Linked DNA regions of Homo sapiens. The protein of the gene in region 3 binds, or shares a complex with, the protein of the main gene of each other region. Each region holds a gene or a part of one and is shown on either strand. Other genes may lie near its edges. The genes, in order: KIF11, RBM10 and KAT2B.

Region 1 (7,451 bases), on a different chromosome or scaffold from region 3:
TTTGTTAACTGTTGAAAGCAGGGATGGAGAATCTTTAGACCTTAAGGGAAGGAGCTGTAGATCTATTAAAAAACAGTTACAGGCCGAGCGCGGTGGCTCACGCTTGTAATCCCAGCACTTTGGGAGGCCGAGGCGGGCGGATCACCTGAGGTCGGGAGTTCAAGATTAGCCTGACCAACATGGAGAAACCCCTTCTCTACTAAAAATACAATATTAGCCAGGTGTGGTGGTGCATGCCTGTAATCCCAGCTACTCGGGAGGATGAGGCAAGAGAATCGCTAGAACCCGGGAGGCGGAGATTGTGGTGAGCCAAGATCAGGCAATTGCACTCTGGCCTGGGCAACAAGAGCAAAACTCCGTCTCAAAAACAAAAAAACAAAACAAGACATACACACAAAAAAGGTACAAGCAGCCAGGCGCAGTGGTTCATGCCTGTAATCCTAGCATTTTGGGAGGCTGAGGTAGGAGGGCTGCTTGAGGCCAAGAGTTCAAGACCAGTCTGGCCAACATAGCAAGACCCTCTCTCTATATATATTTAAAAAAAAAAAAAAAAAAAAAAGGTACAAGCATATGCATCTCAGAAGTAGAACTTCAACTGTAAATGTAGATACCAATGTCCTACGTAAGGAAATTTTTCCTTCACACACTCTGTCTAGGCTTGTACCCTCAAATTAGAGGAAAAGATACCAGCACTTTATAGAGCCTCACTTGGAAGTTGTATTTCATTGGAATCCTCCTACTTACCCATAGAGAACATTAAGGGACTGGTGACATTGATTGTGTACTCAGTCATCAATGCTGAGATGAATCATAAACCAACTATGTTCTCAACAGTGTTAAAAAGTGGGTAGGAGGGGCCGGGCCGGTGGCTCACACCTGTAATCCCAGCACTACGGGAGGCCGAGGCAGGCAGATCACCTGAAGTTGGGAGTTCGAGACCAGCCTGACCAACACAGAGAAACCCCCTCTACTAAAAAAAAAAAAAAAAAAAAAAAAAAAAAAAAAAAAAAAAACAAAATTAGCCAGGCATGGTGGCACATGCCTGTAATCCTGGCTACTCGGGAGGCTGAGGCAGGAGAATCACTTGAACCCAGGAGGTGGAAGTTGCGGTGAGCCAAGATCGTGCCATTGCACTCCAGCCTGGGAAACAAGAGCGAAGCTCCGTCTCAAAAGAAAAAAAAAAGTGGGTAGAGGGCTGGGCACAGTGGCTCACGCCTGTAATCCCAGCACTTTGGGAGGCCGAGGAGGGTAGATAACTTGAGGTCAGGAGTTTGAGACCAGCCTGGCCCACATAGTGAAACCCTGTCTCTACTAAAAATACAAAAAAATTAGCCAGGTGTGGTGGTGCATGCCTGTAATCCTAGCTACCCGGGAGGCTGAGTCAGGAGAATCACTTGAACTCAGGAGGCGGAGGTTAAGTGAGCCAAGATCGTGCCACTCCACTTCAGCCTGGGTGACTCAGTCTCAAAAAAAAAAGAAGAGTGGGTAGGAGAGGTCACAGGATTTAATTACACTGGATTAGAGCAGGCAAGGTGCTCAGGAAACATGGGGCAACAGTTTACAAGAGAAGAGCCTCAGGCAGGAGAAATCACTAATATAACCTAAGAGGCCTCCAGTCTCTCAATCTTTTCAATCACTTTGCCTTCAAAGTCTGATTATGGGCAGAGATAGGTTCCAAGACTTACATGTCAAAGGTAGAAGGAAGAGAAATGACTGCTCTCAGTGTCTGAGTATATAGCAAGCAGAAAAGGAATAAATACAATAGCTAAAGATTATCAGCTAAGGATGTAGATTAAGTCAAATTCTGCCTTCATTTATTCTACAGAAAACCCCTTATCAATATCAGATTTTTGTAAATAATTCAAATCATAAGCGTTAACAAGCCATCCTAAGGAATAATTGAAAGGTTTTTGTTGTTCTGCTCACCACGAACAATACCTTTATAATGAATAGTAAATGAATGACTTACATCAGATGTGGAAGGGTTATCTGATATGACATACCTGGAAAAATGGAACCCCGCCAATTGATGAACAATCCACACCAGCATCTACAGATGGCTCTTGACTTAGAGGTTCTTCAGTATACTGCCCCAGAACTGCCTCTTCTACATCCACATCCTAAAAGAAGAAACTGGATGAGTGACTAAGTCCAAGGGCTTAAAAGTCATCACAAGAGTAACAGCAGCTTTGAGTATAACACAATGCCCATGGTATAATATAAAAGTTAAACCTCAACAAAATTATTAGAAAGTCTACAAATTAATGAAAATAATTCCTAATATATTTTTATAGAGAGTAGAGGTTCCTATATAACAATGTTACTAAGCACAATATTAAGTATTGGCTATTATTATCTACTAGCATAATTTAAAAACTAGTAAGATTAAAAGAAACAAGCCTAAGGGCTAGGCCTATCATTAATGAGAGGCGGGGTAAGATTGAGGGGTAAACAGTAAAATTCTTCACATGAAGTCAGCCACATCAAGAGTTCATAAAAGAGTTCTATTATAAAATATGATCCTTTAAATTTACCGGAATTGTCTCTTCTTTGTTGTTTTCTGAACAGTTTAGCATCATTAACAGCTCAGGCTGTTTCCTTTTCAGCTGATCAAGGAGATGTTCACGTGGTTCAGTTCTTACCAGTGTTGATGGGTATAAATAACTTTTCCTCTGTGGTGTCGTACCTTTAACGGACATTAGATAAGAGGTAAAAATTAAAGTATGAGATGTAAATATTTTTAAAAAAACCTAAAACTTCCTAATTAATCTTGTCTTCTAAAAATATAAAAATATAATTGCCATATATGAGGATCAGTCTTGCTACCTGTCAGACATTGTTTGCAACTAACAATACTTTCTAATTTGATGACAGACTTTACTGTTTTCAAGATTCATCCTACTCTCTAAAACATGAAGTTTACCATCTCTGAGGATATATAAAAGATGTGTTATAAGCTCTAAAAGGAGTTATAGTGTTCTGAAAAAAATGGCAGCATTATTGGAATGAGTAGATTTCCCAACATGATTACTTTGATAGGAGTAATCATTTCACTATAAATGTGGTGTGGTGGTTAAATATTAACTAGTTATATACATATACTATGTTGCCCAGGCTGGTCTTGAACCCCTGGGCTCAAACGATCCTCCTGCCTTGCCTCCCGAAGTGCTGGGATTATAGGTGTGAGCCACCGCATCAGGCCCCCAGTTATATTTCTCTGTAATAAGCTCATGCTCTCATGATTTACAAAAGTACTTGCCTTTTCACTCAACATTTACATTCCTAACTTCATTGAAAAGTAGACAGTAAATCCTACAGGTCTCTTGGGGAATAAATAAACCAACATTCTATGTAGCACCATCCCCTTTTAACAATTGCTTTTTAAATTAAAAAAAAAAAAGAGTTTTGTGATATAATTTACATACCATAAAACACTCATTTTATGTGTACAATTCAGTGGATTTTAGTGAGTTTACAGGGTGTGCAACCATTACCATAATCCAATGAAGAACCCAATTATTCATGCTGTGTAAAACAGCTTGTTACATCTCTTCCATGAAGACCTCCCTGAATCATTACAGCCTATAATGATCTTTGCCATATGTGATCTCTCAAAATGTTGATTCCTAAATGCTAATGGTCCATGGTGATCCCTGATCTCTTAAAACAGGGATTCCTAAATGGCAATAGTCTATGACAAAATGAGAGGGACACAGAACAAAATGCACAATGTGGTAAACTTTGCATTAAACTAGATTTAGTCAGTTACATCTCTCCCATATTTGTGGTATTAAAATGTCCTTTTACAAACAGTGCTAGGTTTGTATTTGTTTTAAAAAATCCCCTATTAACAAAGTCAACTCCCTGAAAGTATGTGAAATTATACTGAATTGTGATACCACCTGTATCATGACACTTGATTAAAACTATTTTAAGGTTCCAGTTTTCCCATTTTGAGTTGATTACAGTGAGATGTTAAATTTCTGTCAGGCAATGGCAGGACCTAATTTTTCTGAACATCTGACACTACATAGAGTTGAATTCGACTTCAAAAAATTTAACAATTCTATTTCTCTTTTAAAGTACCTGTTGGGATATCCAGTTTCAGATCCTGTTCCAGAAAGCAATTAAGCTTAGTCAAACCAATTTTTATGGTTTCATTAAGTTCTAGATTTTGTGCTATCAATTTATCTTCATCAATAGTCATCTGATCAAGAAAAATGTTATGCTGTTTCTCATGAGCTGCCTTACGTCCATCTGATTTCTCAGTGATGTCTGAACTTGAAGCCTCACAACATTGGCTTACAACCTGTAAATGATGCAAATAAATATTTATTACTAAAATTAAAGTTGCCAGTGTTTTATTCAACATCATATTTTCCCTTACCTTTTCCATAATTTTTTTTTTTTTTGGAGACAAGTCTCACTCTGTTGCCCAGGCTGGAGTGCAGTGGCATGAGTAGTGCTCACTACAGCCTTGACCTCCCAGGCTCAAGCCATCCTCCCACCTCAGCCTCCCAGGTAGCTGGGACTACAGGCATGTACCACCATGCCTGGCTAATTTTTGTATTTTTTGAAGAGATGGCATTTCACCATGTTGCCCAAGCTGGTCTCAAACTCCTGGGCTCAAGCAATCTGCCCACCTTGACCTCCAAAGATTACAGGCATGAGCCACCACACCTGGCCTTCAGTAATAAAAGATTTAAAAACACATACAAAAGTAGAGAGAACAGTATAATTAACTCCCTTGTATTCATTACCCAGCTTCAACATTTACCAACAAGTGGAGTACAGACATTTACCAACAGGACTGGCCACTCAACTCCTCCATAAACCCAGGATTATTTTGAAACAAATCCTGTATCATTTCATCCATTTACTTCAGCATGTATCTCTAAGAGGTAAGAGCACTTTAAGACCACTATCACATCTAAAAAGGTTAACACTGATTCCTTCCTATCAAATGTCTAGTCCATGTTCAAACTTCACCAGTCGTCTCAAATGTGTGTCACAATTGCTTTGTTTGAACCAGAATTCACCACTAGATTTGGTTCATAGGTCTTAAGTCGGTGACTATATAATTTATCATCCAAATTGGGACACCTTTTGGAGTGAAAGGGCCCATTCTTAATAATCATTCTAATACAACAATATCAACAAGGACTGTCTCAGGCAAACTAAGACTTAAGGACCTCTAGTCTTAAGTCTCTTTTGATATACAGGTTATTGTTTCTCATATTTTTTCCCTTGAAAAAAAAAACTTGTTGCTGAAGACATGAGGTCTTTACCCCATTGAACATCTCAAATTCTGGATTTGGTCAACTGCATTTCTATGCTTTATTTTCTACAAACTGGTTAGACCTAAAGGCTTGATTTAATTCAGGTTTAATTTTTTAGCAAGAGTATTTCATAGGTAGTACTGCAAGCACAAAATGCTTTGCTGTGTCTCTCATGTTAAGATTTATCAGTGAGTTCAGGTATGGTTAGCCTATTAATTATAAAGTTCCCCAACAGCTTTTGATCAAATGGTTTAAGCCATCATTAACATCCACAGGGGTTATTTTATTAAGAGTTGCATACTGGTGATATATTAATTCTATCATTTCTTCTCCATTTTATTAGCTTAGAGTCTAATGAAACACTTTTCTTCATTACCCTGCTAAACCAAGATATGGTTCTTTTAGGAAAGACAGATGGATGCTAAATTTTTTCTTCTTCTTTACCCATTTTCAGGACAATGTGTTGCTTCCCTAGCATGATCCAAAGGAGACCTATGAAATTTTTATGAGTTCGTAAGTTTTAATATATTTGATATGTTTTAATCCATTATGGCCATTATTCTTTTTGATGCTCAAATTATGCCACCTTTGAAGATGGGGAGGTTGGCTACTAAGACCTTTTGACAACCTCAGAAATCTTTAACAGCTTCCTTACTCTCTGGTATGACAAGATCTCTAGGCTCATATATTATACATTTCCTATCACAAATCTGAAATTAGCTATTTGTATACAAACTCTAGTTCCTTTTAGTGAAAACAGCTTATATAGATTAAAAATTTTAATTCTTTGTACCTACTTCCTGAGAATGTTAGTAAAATCCTATTAATGCAAAGAAAGAAAAAACCAAGTTACAAAGGGCTCATGCAAGCGTTAAGTTCAAGCAAATCCATAAACCTATCAAGTATCCTTTAGTTACCAGAACAATAACCTAAATACTTAAAATAATAATAGGTTTGAATGTACTTGGAGAAAAGTAAAAAGCAAAGATAGGCCGGGCGCAGTGGCTCATGCCTGTAATCCCAGCACTTTGGGAGGCCGAGGCGGGTGGATCATGAGGTCAGGAGTTTGACACCAGCCTGGCCAATATAGTGAAACCCCATCTCTACTAAAAATACAAAAAAATTAGCCGGGTGTGGTGGCAGGTGCCTATAATCCCAACTACTCGAGAGGCTGAGGCAGGAGAATCGCTTGAACTTGGGAGGCGGAGGTTGCAGTGAGCTGAGATCGTGCCATTGCACTCCAGCCTGGGCAACAGAGTGAGACTCCATCTCAAAAAAAAAAAAAAAAAAAGCATATATAAGTGGAAGGTATTACATATCAAAAGACAGGGTGCCCTTCTTTGAAGAAACTACTAAGTCAGAAACCAAGGATAAATACAGGAAAGAAACTGTACAAATGTTAAATTAATTCCAAGATTGAGAAGACATATAACAAAGCACAAAACGAGATCATCTGTAAGCATACCAAATATTATACTTAAAAGTTTAAGTCATTATAGCTTAAAATATCATTTGTTTTGAAATCTATTCTTAGCCAAGAATATTTAACTTTCTGATTATTATTCTCCCCAAAGTAAGTTCCACTTACAAAGTTATTACCTCCAATAAGTTGTGAAGTTCCTGTTCCCTTTCATTTAAGGAAGATACCCACTGTTCAGAAAAATAAACTGTTCTTGTGTTCAGAGATTCACATCTCTGTTCAGTCTCTTGAGATATTTTTTCCAGGTTGCCATTGAGTTTATCAGAGTGTTTCACAGATTCTTCAACCAATTTTGTACCTTCTTGGTTAAAATTTCTGAGTTCCTGTGAGAAGCCATCAGAATCAGCACAAAATTTTTGACTGTGAAAAGTCATTTTGTTGACTATATCCTTAGATTTCCTATAGGAAAAGAGAATGACACTGTTGAAATGGGGAATTAAGACTCAAAGGATATATAACTTCCCAAGATCACTCAGCTCTTAAGTGGCAGATCTGAACGTGGACAGTCTGGCTCCAGGGCCCGTGATCTTAGTAAATCTTCTGCATTGAGAATGGATGCCTTGGCCACTGTCTTTTCACAGCATTGCCATTAAATGACCTTTGAAAGGATCATCTTTGCTCATGAAACCTTTCACAACCCTCCTCCAGTTATGATGCTTTCAAAATCTGTCTACTTGTTTTATTCCTCTTAC
Region 2 (7,451 bases), on a different chromosome or scaffold from region 3:
TCGGCTGACCGACGCTTGCCGGACAGTGGGGAGAAACCCCCACTCGGCCCTGACACTGCCAGGCCACACCCAGGGCCAGGACTACACAGGCTACACTTGGGGGGTGAGGGGAGACAGGGAGGGGGAGGGAGAGGGGAGAAAAAGAGAAAGAGAGCGCAGGTGCGCTAGTGCTGGAGAAGGGGAAAAAGAAAGAGCCATTTCGAACAGATGGAAGTTTCTGCCATGAGGCCGTCTTCCCATGGATGGCTGGGTCCTGGGCCCATGGCACTAGCCTACCAACCCCGAGGAGACGGCCCCAGGGCTGCCTCTGCCGGGATCCCCCATTCTACCACCTCTGCCCCTTCCTCCCCTGAAACTGCTCTCCAGTGCCCTACACCAGGGATCTGGGCAGGGGTGGGTGACCAGGCAGATCTTTGGGTCTCGGAGGTCCCAAAGCTGCTGAGTTGGGATCCCGTGCCAGGCTTGGGGGACAGGCTCCCCCCAGGGCTGACTGTGCACAGGTCCTTGCCGAGAAGACAGAGCTGCCTGAGGTGGTGCCTCCTGCGAGTGTGGAGATGTGATAGGAAGGGTAGGGGCGGCGAAGTGAGGCCAGGGTGTCGATAAAACTATCATACTCGACGGGAACTTGAGATCAACAGAGCAGTGCTGTCCCCTTGCATGAAAATCAAAGGGCCAAATTCACATGCAGGGATGGGGCTGACAAAATGAGTCTTGCTAGTGACTGTGCCAATAGCTAAGCTCCTCACTGGCAGGACTTCCAGTGGTCCTGAGGGTGGAATGAGGTCCTGGCTCTGGCTAACCCCAGAGAGGGGTGCCCCCCCCACCAGCCCCGGGGGAGTGGGAAGCTAGGTGAAAGAACCCACCCTGGCAGCTCTTTCTCTGAACGCTCAGCTGGGAGAGGTGAAGGGGCAGCACTAGTGCCTGGTGGTAGGAAGGGGCCAGTGGTGAGTGTGGGCTCTGGATGAGAAGCCCAGTGGGGTAGCGAGAGATGGGAAGAGGAGATAGTGAGGGTCAGGAAGGGGAGAGAGGGGGCGGGGGGATGGGACACAGGGCCACAGGGCAGGGAACTGTGTCCATAAGAATCAGGCGATGGGGAGCGCTCGATTACAAAGTAGTATTTGTTTGGGGGGGGGTTCAAGTGCGGCAAAGCAACCTGATTGGCTTCCATCCATCGTGTAGCGTCCTGCAAGTGACTAAACTCGACGAAGGCGAAGCCCCGGCTCTGACCTGGAGACAGCATTCAGATACAGACGCAGTGGGTTAGTCAACAGCTTTGGACACACGGCGTTCCCGGGGGCGGGACCCGAGGGGAGAGGACGGGGGGCAGAGAGGGAAAGGGGAAGAGGAAAAAGGAAGAAAGAGAAAGAGGCAATCAGAGAGAGAAAGACTAGCGGGCGTGGGGGGCAAGGTAGATGGCCAGGTGGGGCAGGGAAGGTGGAGGGAGAAAAACAGAGGCCAGAGGTCGGTAGGGGGAGAGACACACACACCAACTGGGAAGAGAGAGATGGGGCTCGGGCAGACCTGCCCAGCCAGCCTGGGGTGACAGAGACGGAGAGAAGCAGCTGGGAGGGAAAGAATACGAGAGATCTGCCTCCAAAGAAGGAGGGAGGGGATGGTGGGCAGGCTGCTGGCTCCACACAAGCCACAATACGTAACTCCAGGGCGGGCCCAGCTCAAGGCCAGGGGTGCCCAGGAGGGGTCCTGTAACAGGTGTTGAATCACAGGAGCAAAAGAGAAGCTGGGCCAGGCTGCTCTGCGAGGCTAGGAAGGCTCTTGGCCCATTGGAAACCAGGGGCGGTTAAAGACACGACCTCATCTCAGCCTCACCGCAGCGCAGGGGAGGCGGGCCTCGCTAGGGAGCCACCTCAGGGCCACAGGGTGGAGACTACAGCCACAAACAGTCCAGGTTCCCCTGGACAAAAGGAGAATGGTGGCCAGGATTGGCCAGGAGGACCTTAGAGGTAAGAATCAATGGGTGCCTGGGAGAAGCGCCCAGGGCCATTGAGAAGGCCGCACCTGGAACACCTCCTTGTGGAGAGAGAGACCCAGAAGCTGTCCGTGTGTGGTGTAGTTGGGGTGATGCAGAGCAAGACCTACATGCAACCAAGATTCCAGGCTTGGGAAAGGGATTCAGGGTTGAGGCCTCAGGATAGCATGTCCTTTAGAGGCAGATACATGGGGAGGGCTTGGATGAGAGGGGCTTGGGGGGGCATGCTTAATGTTCAAAAGAATAACCGTTAGGATGCATAGGAGGATGGAATGAATAATATAGTTGGGGGGGGCAGAGAGAGAGAAAGAGAGAGAGGGAGAAAGAGAGAGAGAGAGAGAGAGAGAGAGAGAGAGAGAGAGAGAGAGATGGAGGTGTGGGGAGGAGAGACTGAGAGATGGAGAGAGAAGCCCAGGCAGAGTGAGGCCCCACTGTGCCTGCCTTGGGGAGCCTGGGCAGAGGTCCTGTAGAGACAACTCCCCCCACCACCACCCTGCTAACCTCAGGCCAGCTCCAAGCAGCCTGCAAGAGGGAGGGAGGGAGGGAACAGGCGAGGCCAGGAAGTCCTGGCTGTTCCTTGGGATGTGTCCTTGGATAAGAGCCATCCCCTGCTTCCCCCTTGGGACACACATGTGGGACCACCACGTCAGAGCTACTTTCTGGTCAGAGGCTGTTACCAAAAAATGTGGGGGAAAGTGAGGGGCAGAGGAAGGAGAAGAAAGGAGAGGGAAGGGAGTGTATGGGAGGGGGTTACCATCTCAGATACTCAGAGTCCCAGAGAGGAGGTGCCTGGGAGCCTGGCCCTGGCCCTGACCCCAGGGAGCACCCAGCTCAGCTCAGAGCTGCACCCCTGCCCCGACAGCCCCATTGAAGAGGCTTTTGGCTGGAGCTGTGAGGAGAGTGTGGGGAGTGGGAGAGAAGAGAGGGCACCCCCCACGCTGCCCATTCCCAGCTGTGGCAGGAAGGTGGTGGAGGGAGTGGGGGAGAAGGCAGAGGCAGGAGGGAGATTCGGAGGCTGAGGCTGGCCACTTGAAGGGGAGGGCACTAGAACAAAAGCTCACCTGAAGATTTGTTCCGCATCAGCCGAACCTCCCGTGCTTGCACGCCGTGCGACTGCAGCTGGCCACGGATCTATACGGGGAGATACAGAGTAGGGCAGGCTCAGCACAATGGGGCCGCTGGGTACCTGAGGCTGGCTGGAGGCCTCTGGATCCCGAGGGGTCATCGGTGATGTGCACACAGTCTCCTCCGCCTCTTTCGCAGCTTTTCCCTGAGTGACAACAGCCCCAGGCCCACACCAGTTCACAGTCTTGACTTTCAGCCCCAGACTTGCAGAAAGTGAATCAAATGAAGAAATGGGCACAGAGCAAGGTAAAGCATGGCAGCAGGACGACCCTCAGGGGCACAGAGAACAAGAGAGCAAGTGAGCCAGCCACTTAAGAACGGTGGGCAGGGTGATCTGACAAAGGGCTCGCTGGCAGCCACGAAGTAAGGAAACCTGGGATGCAATTCTTGCCCTTGGCAAGGGGATAACCCGCACCCCCGCCCCTGCCCTGCTGACCTGCAGCTTGCGTCAAAAGAGATCCATGACATAAATGTCAAACTGGGGAGGACAGGAGTCTGAGCAAATCCCAGCCATGTGCCCTAGACCATGACTGTAGCAATAACTTAGGGTGGAGACAAAAAGCAAAAAGATGTAGTCCTGGGGATTGCTTCCCAGATGGAGTAGGCCAGAGGGAAACTGCAGAGGCAATTCAGGATTTGGCCCAGGTGAGGCAGGGTCTCTAGGCCAGTGAGGTCTCTCACTGAGGACCAGGAGCCTATGCCAGCCATTCTTGGGAAGGAGTCTTCATGTCTCTGGGCCTCAGTTTCCCCACCAGGTTAAACAACAGACAGGACATTAGCCTTACACACACCCATACACAGGGTGAAAAGGAAAAACACACAGAAGAGCTTATCAGGACTCCAAACTCAGGGAAGGCTGAGGAAGCAGCAAAAAGTGGGCTCTAGGGTCCAGCTGCCCGGGTTCAGACTCCAGCTCTGCTCTGCCACTCACTGGCTATGAGACCTGGGGCAAGTCACATTCCCACTCAGGGCTTGGTTTCCTCATCCGAAGGATGGAATACAAAGAGTACCTTCCCTGCTGGGCTGCCATGGGGACTGAATCATACCTAACACATGGCCCACCCTGAGATACATTCTCAACAAATGTCAGCAACCAGCTACTGTCTGACCCTGAACAGGGCAGGTGGGCCAGACCTTAGAAACCCTCAAATACACAAGTGGGATTTTCTCTGTTACAAAATGAGCAGCTAGCAGATTTCAGAGGAGGGCTGATCAGAGAATTCATGGGGGTAGGGGGTGAGGGGCGGCGGAGTAGACTAAGAAGGACCAAGATCAGGACACTATTCTTGGAGGTTATTCTGGTAGGCCTCGTGGGGCTTCAGTGTGGCTGTCATGAGAAGTATGTATGAAAAGGAAACAGGAGGAAAGGGAGGCAGGCGTGGAGGCTGTTAGCAGCCACCCAAGGCTCTGAGGCCAGGCCAGGCTGCTGACAAAAAAGGATGGGGGAAAAAGAGAAGGAAATTTCAGAAAATCCCATCCCTCCCCCAATGGTTACAGGGCCCCAGTGTCATCTCTGCTACCAGCAATAGCCAGCACTGGCCCGGTGAGCGTCTGGCCCATGATGCACACATGCAAAATGGCTGGATGACCAGTGGAATGTGCAGGACTGCTCTTCTCCCGCCCATACCCACCACTACCAGACACCCATGGCCAATGTCCCTTGGCCAAGCCGGCCTCTCTGACACTCCTCCCTCCAGACCGGGGGGCCGATGGGACCTGCCCACAGAGGACGGATCAGTGCTGGGGGATAGGAGCTGGAGGGGGAGAAGGGATGAAAGGCGCTGAGGTTGCAGGTGAGGGAGGGGTGGGGAGAAGTTGAGGGCCCTGGAGGAGACCCAGCCTGGCCTCCTGCCCGGGGCCATGGGGGGCACGTACGTCATCCTCAGTGGCTGCCTGTGGCAGCATCCTCAGCATGACGATGTTACTGGCCTTCTCCTCCTCCTCCTCATCCTCCTCCTCCTCCTCCTCCTCCCCTTGCTCGGTCCGATAGTCCTGGTCCCGATAGTCGCCGTCTCGGGGGAAGCCTGGCGGGCCGGTGGGGCTGTGCCTGTGCCGCCGCCGCCGCCTACGCTGAGTCTCGGAGCCCGGGGAGGCCTCGTAGGAATCCTGGCCGACAGAATGAGATGAGTGACACCAGACGGGCAGTCAGTCTGGGCAGGCCTAGGAGCTGGCCGCTGGCTCTGTGAGGCAGGCAGGCTCTGAAAGCCAGGGATGTGCGGGCTCCGGCTAAAGGCTCAGGCAGGCAGGGTGGGCAGGCCCCGGCCTGCAATCTTTCTGGGACTGTAAATTCTCCATGGGGTCCTTTTGGGGGCTGCCTTCAGTGGGTGGGGAGAGGTAGGTGACAGTATTGGTGTGGGGGGAACTCCCAAAGGTAGCTGACAAGACACAGCTTAAACCTCCTTGGGGCAAGATGGCCTGGGGTCAGCACACCAGACCCCACCCTTGATTTTCCTCTCCTCTCTGGCCAGCTCAGGGGGTGTGCTCAATTGCTTCACTGTACCACCGAAGGCTGCATGTCTCCTACGGTTCCACCCTGCAACCAAGCTGGGGGCATAAGAACAGCTTCAGATCTCAGCCAGAGCCAGGCAGCAGGAGCTGGTGGAGGTGGTGTGAGGGCTGCAGACACTCCCTCCTCAGTCCCTGATCCTCAGCCTTGGCCAGTCCTCCACCACACACCACGCTCAAAACGGTATGGCTGTTGGGCTCTGGGCTGTTGCCCAATCCATCCATTCCAGGACTAAGCAGAGCAGGCCTGGGGCCAAAGCCCTCCCGCCCACAGTGGGGAAGCACCAGATAACTTGGTGCTCCATTCCCACCCTGGCCAGGGCCCAGTGCTCCTGGAGACGTCTGGGCACAGCTTGACAGCTGCCACTGGAGAAGCCTGGCAGTCCACCAAAGGGGTTTTTGCCCTGGACCCTCCAGAGGGCAGTGGGCAGCTCACAGACTGCCCCCCAGGGCTGGGCTTGCAAGAACTCCCTTCCCAGCCTGCTGGACAGGAGAGCTGCCTGCTCGCATGGACCAGGTCCCTGACTGCCCCTCCAACTGGGATTCCCCTAAGGCAAGCCTGTTTCTTCCCCTCGGGTGGGGGCTCCCTGATGGTGTAAACATCGCGCCTCATCCCGCAGGCTAGGGTGAACTACCCAACATGGCACTGGCTTCTCCAGAAGGGTCCTTCCCTTCTGTCTAGGGGCTCTATCACCACTGGGAATGCCCATGGCTGGCCTCCCAGAGCTCCTCAGCTTGGTGGTCTGCAGTCCCCTTGTTGTCCTCCCAACCCCAGACGCCGGGTCCCATGGAAGAGGCTCTTCAAGTGCCCAAGTTGGCTGGGAGCGGGCAGTACAGGGTTCACAGTGAGCCATGGGCCCGAACTGAACAACAGGGAGAAAGGGAAAGAGTGGTGGCCAGGGGCCCTCAGAAGTACAGAGCCAAGCATGTGGAAGCCAGGGAGACCCAGGTTGGGAGAGGAGCCCTCAGAGAGGGGAGTGGGAACAGGCCCTCCAGGTGAGGCAAAGCCACCGAGCACAGTCTGAAGGCACGGGAGTGGAGAGCTGCCTGCACACGGTGCTGCAGCCAGACACAGAGGGCCCTTGGGAGCCCATCCCAGCCAGGCCTGGCGCAGCGCGCCCCCTCCTCACCTCCGCACTCTGCTCCTCAGATGAGTCGTCATAGTCATGCTTGCCCTCCTGGCTGCCATACTCGCGAGGATATGAACGGTAGTCCATGTCCCGGTAGTCGTGGTCTCGGCTGCGGTTCTCCCCACCATCATCCTGCGAGCGGTCAGTGGCTCCATAGCGGCCAGTCCTGTCACCACGACCACCACTAGTGGAGGAAGAAGGATGGGGAGGGATCAGAAGGTTGCCCTTTCTAAAAGGTGCAAGAGGCCCAGGTGATGTGTTCTCGTAGGGTTTTGGTTTTTTTGGAGGAGCATACAACAGAAGTGAGGTGCCCTTCTGATCCTATCAGAGAAAGAAGTACATGATACCACCATGACTTAGCTCTGGTGATGTTAACCATGGTCATCTGGTTAAGGCAGTGTCTGCCAGGTTTCTCACCCTGTAAACTTTCTATTTTTCCCTCCCCCTACTCTATTCTTTGGAAGCCCTCAGGCCCGCCCCCATACAGGGATTCCTAAATCCCTGCTCCACATCTCTGAAGTGCAACCTGCCTCTCTCCATCCCTATGTCACTCTCTGGTCCATGCCACTGGCTTCCCTCATGGGGCACCTTGGTTGTGGCCTGGCTGTTCTCCTCACTTCTACCTGGACCTCCCCAGTTCAGTCTCTACATCCCAAATCCCAAATGTGAGTGCTTTCTAAGGCAAAGCCACTCAAACCCATCTC
Region 3 (7,451 bases):
GGAGACCATTGGAGTGAGAGGACTATTCCCAGAAAGTCCTTAACTCCACTTTGAACCTTCTCTGGACATGGCACAGAGAGATCTTCCCAAGCTCTGCAGGCCTTAGTGAGAAGCCCCACATTCTGCTCTTCTTCTAAGACCTTGGGTTTACCCTTACCTTGACTTGCTCATTTGAGGTTACAGCACAGAAGACAATCTCTGTGAATCCTTGAGATGGGAACATACGGAAACAGATACCACCAATAACACGGCCATCTTTAATTAAAGCAAGGGTTTTGTGTTTCCTGAAAGAATAAGATTATGTCAAAGTTTTACCTATCCTAGTTATATAAATATACTTTTTGGGGTGTTCCTTATTAACCAACTAAGAAAGAGGGACATGTCCTAAGTTTCTATAGAAACTTCCTTCATGTAGCCCCTATCTCGCTAGACCATCCTTTTATCTGAACTTTTTAGAGCTAGGTCGCCTGCACAAGATGTCATCAGCACTCCCATCAGAACAAAATACCAGTCACCTAAGAAGTGCCTGAGGTTTACAAATAGAGAACAGAGTATGTGCAGAGGTGCTCTGGAACTGGCACAGCCAGTGCCAAGGAGGGGTCAGGGAGAGCAGGAAGTCATGGACAAACATGGTATGTGTCTCTGAAGAGTTAAGTCTTACTCCAAAATATTACAGAAACATTATGAAAAAGAATTTAAAATTTACATATACAATTTGCAAAATTCCGCATTATGGAATCCTTCCCTCTGTCTAAAGCATCACTCTGAATTGTCACAGGCATGGATCACAGTCCCCATAGGCTACTGGGCTATGTATGTTAAAATAAATTCAATTAGAGAAGTTTAGTTCTTTAGGGTTTCGTGGGTTTTTTTTTTTTTTTTTTTGAAATGGAGTTTCGCTCTGTTGCCCAGGCTGGAGTGCAATGGCACGGTCTCGGCTCACCACAACCTCCGCCTCCTGGGTTCAAGCAATTCTCCTGCCTCAGCCTCCCAAGTAGCCGTGATTACAGGCATGTGTCACCAGGCCTGGCTAATTTTGTATTTTTAGTAGAGACGGGGTTTCTCCATGTTGGTCAGGCTGGTCACAAACTCTCAACCTCAGGTGATCCTCCCACCTCAGCCTCCCAAAATGCTGGGATTACAGGCATGAGCCACCATGCCCGGCCTAGTTTTTTGTTTTTTTTTTTTAAGCAATGGATTTTCAAAGTTAACCTGTCTTATATCCCAATAATTGCCCACAGACCTGGGCAATAATGGCACCTAGTTAAGATACCAAAACCAATATTTTGATTATGAAGAAAGCAGAACATCTTAGTGTTACATTCTCTCACTGCTATAAAGAATGAAGCACAGGAGAGTCATCAGCAATGTAAAATATAAAGTTTCATCATCATTAACAAGAAAATTTGTAAATTGTTGAAAATTACTCTTAGCACTTTCAGACATGAAAATCAGCTTGGTGAAGCTCTGTATCCACAGCAAGACAGGTGCAGTAGTATTCGGTGGATGACTATGGCTGACTTTCACTATCTAAGCAGTTCCTCTTTCATTTAAAAAGGAAATAAGGAAGAAGGAACAGAAAGTACCACTTACGGGTCAAAGACGAGCCGTGTGATGTATTCTTTTGGCATTCGGGGCAGCTGGTGGGAGAAAACGTTCTGTAGGCCAACCAGCCACATCAGGATCTTCTTGTTTGGTTTCTGGTTGAGGGAATTGCCAACCACGTGAAATTCAATTACACCCCTGCGCTCTTCCAACCTTGCCGCCTCATCCCTGGCCGAGTGTGCTGACAGAAAATTGGTCTGAGATGCAAGAGACAGGAAAAAATTACACAGAGCTATTCTCTCAAGACAGTGGGGATGGGACACATCCAAGCTTCTCATCTTTGTTCTAATAAGATACACATTTGTGGATTTTCAGAGTCCTAAATACACATGTGTGCACACATACACACAGAGACACATACACATACAAGTTATGAAGACAAGACAGAAAAGGCAGGTAAAGCATTTTGAGAAATTGGAGTATTATATGTGTACACGGATGATATTCAGTGTAGATTAGGGGCCAGCAAAGTTTTCTGTGAAGGGCCAGATAGAAAATATTTTAGACGTTGTGAGCCATAAGGTGTTTGTCACAACTACTCCTTCTTCTGCTATAATGCAAAAGCATCCACAGACAATATGTTAAAGAATGGGTGCAGTACTGTTCCAATAAAACTTTATTTAAAAATACAGTAAGCAGACAAAATGTGGCCTGTGGGTTATAGTTTGCCAACCTCTGGCTTCAAGGAATCCTCTCCAGCTGAGCTTTAAGGACCCTTGAGATGACAGATTCAAATTCTCATTACAGGCCCAATAGTAGCACTCATGTATATATTCTTTTTTTTTTTTTTTTTTTCTGAGACGGAGTCTCGCTCTTTCGCCCAGGCCAGACTGCAGTGGCGCTATCTCAGCTCACTGCAAGCTCCGCCTCCCGGGTTCATGCCATTCTCCTGCCTCAGCCTCTGGAGCCTGCCACGGCGCCCAGCTAATTTTTTGTATTTTTTAGTAGAGACGGGGTTTCACCGTGTTAGCCAAGATGGTCTCGATCTCCTGACCTCGTGATCTGCCCGCCTCGGCCTCCCAAAGTGCTGGGATTACAGGCTGAGCCACCGCGCCCGGCCTCATGTATATATTCTTAACACCTCTTTTTAAAGAACAGTTTTCTTTCCAGAGAATATCTGTTGACCTACACTCAACCATAGCTGGAAGCACAACCATGTGCCAGCACTTATGCTCCCCATCTTATTTAATCTGCCTAGTGGTTTGCAAGTAGATGCTCCACAAACAGCTCTTCAAGGAAGGAAGGCCCTAACTGGTGACACTTCATCTCATTAGTCCAGAACTGGCTATCCAGGTAACCAGGTGCCATGCTAGTCAACTTCAAGCTACCAACATATGGAACAACCAGCTCACAAAACTCCTGAAAATTTAACAATTTTCTTGTGCATTCCAGTACAAGCCAGCTCTAGTACACTACTAAATATTAATATATCCAAAATATTTTCAAACATGTGACTGCATCCTGATGTAGTTTGAATGTGTGACCCCTCCAAATCTCATGCTGAAATGCAATCTCCAATGTTGGAGGTGGGGCCTAGTGGGAAGTGTTGGATCATCAGGGCAGACCCCTCATGAATGGCCTAGCACCATCCCCTTGTTGATGAATGAGTTATTGCTCAGTTAGTTCATATGAGATTTGGTGGTTTAAAGGGGTCTGGCTCCTCCTCCTCACTCTCTTGTTCCCTCTCTCACCATGTGATGTGCCTGCTCCCACTTCACCCTGCACCATGAGTATAAGTTCCCTGAGGCCTCCCCAGAAGCTGAGCAGATGCTGATGCCATTCTTGTACAGTCTGTGGAACTGTGAGCCAATTAAAGCTCTTTTTTAAAAAAATAAATTACCCAGTCTCAGGTATTTCTTTGTAGCAATGCAATAGACTAGTACAAATCCCCATTTTATAGCTGAAAAAAACCTAAACTCAGCTAATCTGTAATGTTACTAAATCCCTAAAAAACTATAGTCTTAAGCCCTCACAGACTGGACATCTAGGAGGAAATGGAAAGATCAATTTTAGGAAGAGATTTTTCTATTACAACATTCTGGTTCTCTGAAGTATCCTCAATGTCATAAAATAAATATTTAAAGAAACATGACAAATTGAAAATTAACACTGTAATATAATCTCCAAGCCATTTCTTCATTTCCTGGAAGCTGTCAGAAATGTCTTAAGACAGGTATGTCTTAAGAAATGTCATTGCCTTGCATGCCCTCAGATGCAAGGCAATGAGATGACAGCAGCATTTTTACCAAAAATGCCTTACTTGAATCTAATCCTTAGTAAACAATCAACAAATCCAAAAAGAGGGACCTTATACAAAACTAGCGACCAAGACTCTTCACCAATGGCAGTGCTGCAAAAGACCAAAACAAGGCTGGGGAGTTGTTTTAAAGGAGACTAAACAAATGAAGAGATAAGAATTAAATGCAATGCACAATCCCTAACTGATCCTTCAACAACAACAAAGGTTATAACTGACATCATCTGGCTATATGGGAAATTTAAATACGGTTTTATATTAGGCCAGAGGTCAGCAAACTTTTCAGTGAAAAGCCAGATAATAAATATTTCATACTTTGCAAGCCACACATTCCCTGTCTCAATTATTCAAATTTACTGTTGTAATGCAAAGACAGCTGCAAACAATATGTTTCAATAAAACTTTATTTGAAAAAAACAGCCAGTGGAGCAGATTTGGCTTGCAGGCTGTAATTCACCAACCCTGTATTAGAAAATATTGTAACCAGGCTAAATTTTCTAAGAGTAATGACTGCATTGTGGTTATGTAAGAGAATAGCTTCCTTATGAGATACAGTACATGCAAAAATAGTTAGGGGTGAAGTATTATGACATGTGTTTTTAATTCTGAAATGGTTCCAAATGGTTCATGGGGAGTGGGGAGAGAAAGAAAAAGAGCATATGGGGAGGCGCAGAGAGAAAGAGAGGTAGCAAATGTGGCATAATGTTAACTGCTGAATCTCAGTAAAGAGTCTATGGATTTTTATTACAGAATTTCTGCAACATTTATGAGGGCTTGAAATTTTTCAAGATAAAAAGCTGGGAATGATGCCTTCAACTGTGAGATTATTAGTAAGTGGACCTGTGATGTGATATTCATCAAGGGGAATTACCTCTTGATCAGTTGTTCCTGCCCTCTCCACACTGACCACCAGGTTAAATGCAAACCAGGGTAGCATAACATGTTAACTCTCAGCATTAGCATCCCCACTTCTGACAGCTGGAGTGGCCAGGAGAGCAGAAGAGGTCTACCAGCTGGCTGCCCAGGTTTACCCTGCTGACCTCTGGTCCAAGCATTGCTGCAGGGTCCGTGATGGTAGACATAACCTCGTTGATTAATTCCATCGGAATATCCCCCATAACTCGGGGTTTCTTGGCCTCCTCCAGAACATGAGAATCAGTCATTTTCCTCTTTTCTCCTATGATGATCAAAATAAAAGGCAAACAATGGGTGGTTCTAAACACAAAACAAATAATACACGCCAACTAATTTTCTAACAGCATTGATGGGCATGGAGGTCAACTCTATCTTTACCACCAGGGGAAGGGGTGACAAAGGAAGACAGGAAAGAGAGCCATTGTGAGCTCACAATAACTGCCAACCCAATTCATTGTGAATATTTTCTACTTTCTATGATGATTTTTAACTAGATACATGAAATATTAAGGCACATGTTCCTTCATCTGCAAATGCAAAGGGGTGATTCTAGCTATTGTTTGTTAGTACTCTCTAATATAGTCTCTTCAAGGTCAGAGAACATGGTCCATATGACACCAAAACGTCAAAATGGATTGAAATTTTTACCTTATGACCTAAAATAAGACCAATCTTTTGTAAATGTGCAGTGTCTTCTTGGAAAGAATGTGTATTTTCATATTTTGATCTCTATAACTCCATTAGCTTCAGCTTACAGATCATGTTGTATGGATATCAGTAAGAGCCTTACTGATATTTTTGTCTGTTTGACCTATGAATTACTCAGTTGTTTGTTTAAAGCCTCAACCGTTGGTTGATTTGATTATTTCTCCTTGTAGTCATGTTAATTCCACCCCGCCCCCACCGGCACCCCACCATATATGTACGGAAATCAGTTTGCATTAGGCTTTGGGCTTTATTGGTTAGTTATTGCTATGTAATAAACCAACCCCAAATGAGTCTTAAACCATAATAACTTACTATCATAGCTCATTCATTTCGTATGTTTCCTGATGGGTGGCTGATTTCAGCTCATCTCATTCAATCTTGGCAGGCTTGTTCATGAGTCTACCCACTGATTGGAATCTCTGTGCTGGGCTTGGCTATACACACACACACACACACACACACACACACACACACACACACACACACACATATGCATATGTGTATGTATGCATATATATTATGTATATATAGCTATATATTTGAAATATACCATAAATTATTTTTAATAAACAAATTTATGGATTTAATTTTCTATTATAAAATGACACACTTTATCTTTTACAATGCTTTTTTGCCCTAAAATGATGCCTCACAAAGTGAGCAGGACCACTAGCCTATCAAGTAGATGCAATCTCACCATTCCACACAATAGGAGAGCCATGCAAAGGCAGAGAGAACTTTCTTCCGCTTTCCTCATGAGATTGCATGGTAGTTTTTTTCTCCTTTCTATTCTCATGTTTGGTTTTTCCAGTTTTTTCCAGACATAACATGTATTTATTTTTACAAGTAAATTTTTTGAATTTTTAAGATGTCTAGATCTAATTTATTTCCTCACATGTGAATCCCACTGCTATCTCAATATAACATTCTCCACATAGCATTCTCACTATCTCTAGTTGAAAAGGAGCAGAACAGTATAAAGTAACTTGACTGTAGACGATTCTTCCAGAAGTATTACATATTATTTACTAAATCACTTTTGTCGAGTTCTTTTTTTTACAATTTTTTGTTGTTTGTTTTTGGAGACAAGTAACAATATTTTCAGACATCTGACCAATAAGTCCTCAAATTCCATGATTCCCTAAGAGTAATGCTGAAAACTATTTATTTCGTAGCTGGGGTTTGTACTTGATATGCCCTCTGCTTGTTAGACTGCTAATGGTGTTTATGATTTTTTTTAAAAAGTCTGAGGCTGAATCCAAGCTCACTGGTAAAGAGTTTCTGCATGAATTAGTGATATCTCCCTTGGAAGTGAAAGGGAATGGTGGCATATGCTAAATATATGGCACTTCTTATATTATAAGGTCCTCTTCTTTCCCTCTTTCATGGTACTTCTTTTATTTAAAAATTTGGTCACATCCAAGATTTGTCTGACGTCAAGTCTGTGGACAGAAATGCAACCTTCAAAACATTCTCTAACTGTGAAATGCTTCTAGGCTCAAGAGATATTTTTGCCCATGTGGTAGATTACATTAATGGCCAAATTCTTTACCCTCCTGGTATCTACACTCTTTGCTATGTGACTTTGCAGTTATTCCTACGAAAGGAATAGACTACCTTTTTCCACTTCTCCACCTCTCAACTCTGAGTTCAACTACGTGACTTGCTTTGGACGACAGAATGAGGCAGAAGTCAGCAGGGTATGGTGGCTCACACCTATAATCCCAGCACTTTGGGAGGCCGAGACAGGTAGATTACCTGAGGTCAGGAGTTTGAGACCAGCCTGACCAATATGGCAAAAACCCATCTCCACCAAAAATACAAAAATTAGCAGGGCATGATGGTGGGCACCTGTAATCCCAGCTACTCAGGAGACTGAGGCAGGAGAGTCACTTAAACCCAGGAGGCAGAGGTTGCAGTGAGCTGAGATCACACCACTGCACTCCAGCCAGGGTGACAGTGTGAG

The links.
Region 1: KAT2B (region 3) and KIF11 share a complex: the UniProt entries of both Homo sapiens proteins name them as parts of the large chromatin remodeling complex.
Region 2: KAT2B (region 3) and RBM10 share a complex: the UniProt entries of both Homo sapiens proteins name them as parts of the large chromatin remodeling complex.

The regions. Positions count from the first base shown.
Region 1 is NC_000010.11:92,645,070-92,652,520, reverse strand, and holds part of KIF11 (kinesin-like protein KIF11), read right to left. Parts: intron 7,159-7,451; coding exon 6,879-7,158; intron 4,310-6,878; coding exon 4,087-4,309; intron 2,687-4,086; coding exon 2,535-2,686; intron 2,121-2,534; coding exon 2,004-2,120; intron 1-2,003. UniProt on the Homo sapiens protein: Motor protein required for establishing a bipolar spindle and thus contributing to chromosome congression during mitosis. Required in non-mitotic cells for transport of secretory proteins from the Golgi complex to the cell surface.
Region 2 is NC_000023.11:47,168,795-47,176,245, reverse strand, and holds part of RBM10 (RNA-binding protein 10), read right to left. Parts: intron 6,932-7,451; coding exon 6,748-6,931; intron 5,219-6,747; coding exon 4,988-5,218; intron 3,119-4,987; coding exon 3,049-3,118; intron 1,228-3,048; coding exon 1,154-1,227; intron 1-1,153. UniProt on the Homo sapiens protein: Binds to ssRNA containing the consensus sequence 5'-AGGUAA-3'. May be involved in post-transcriptional processing, most probably in mRNA splicing. Binds to RNA homopolymers, with a preference for poly(G) and poly(U) and little for poly(A).
Region 3 is NC_000003.12:20,120,256-20,127,706, reverse strand, and holds part of KAT2B (histone acetyltransferase KAT2B), read right to left. Parts: intron 5,040-7,451; coding exon 4,903-5,039; intron 1,803-4,902; coding exon 1,594-1,802; intron 285-1,593; coding exon 158-284; intron 1-157. UniProt on the Homo sapiens protein: Functions as a histone acetyltransferase (HAT) to promote transcriptional activation. Has significant histone acetyltransferase activity with core histones (H3 and H4), and also with nucleosome core particles.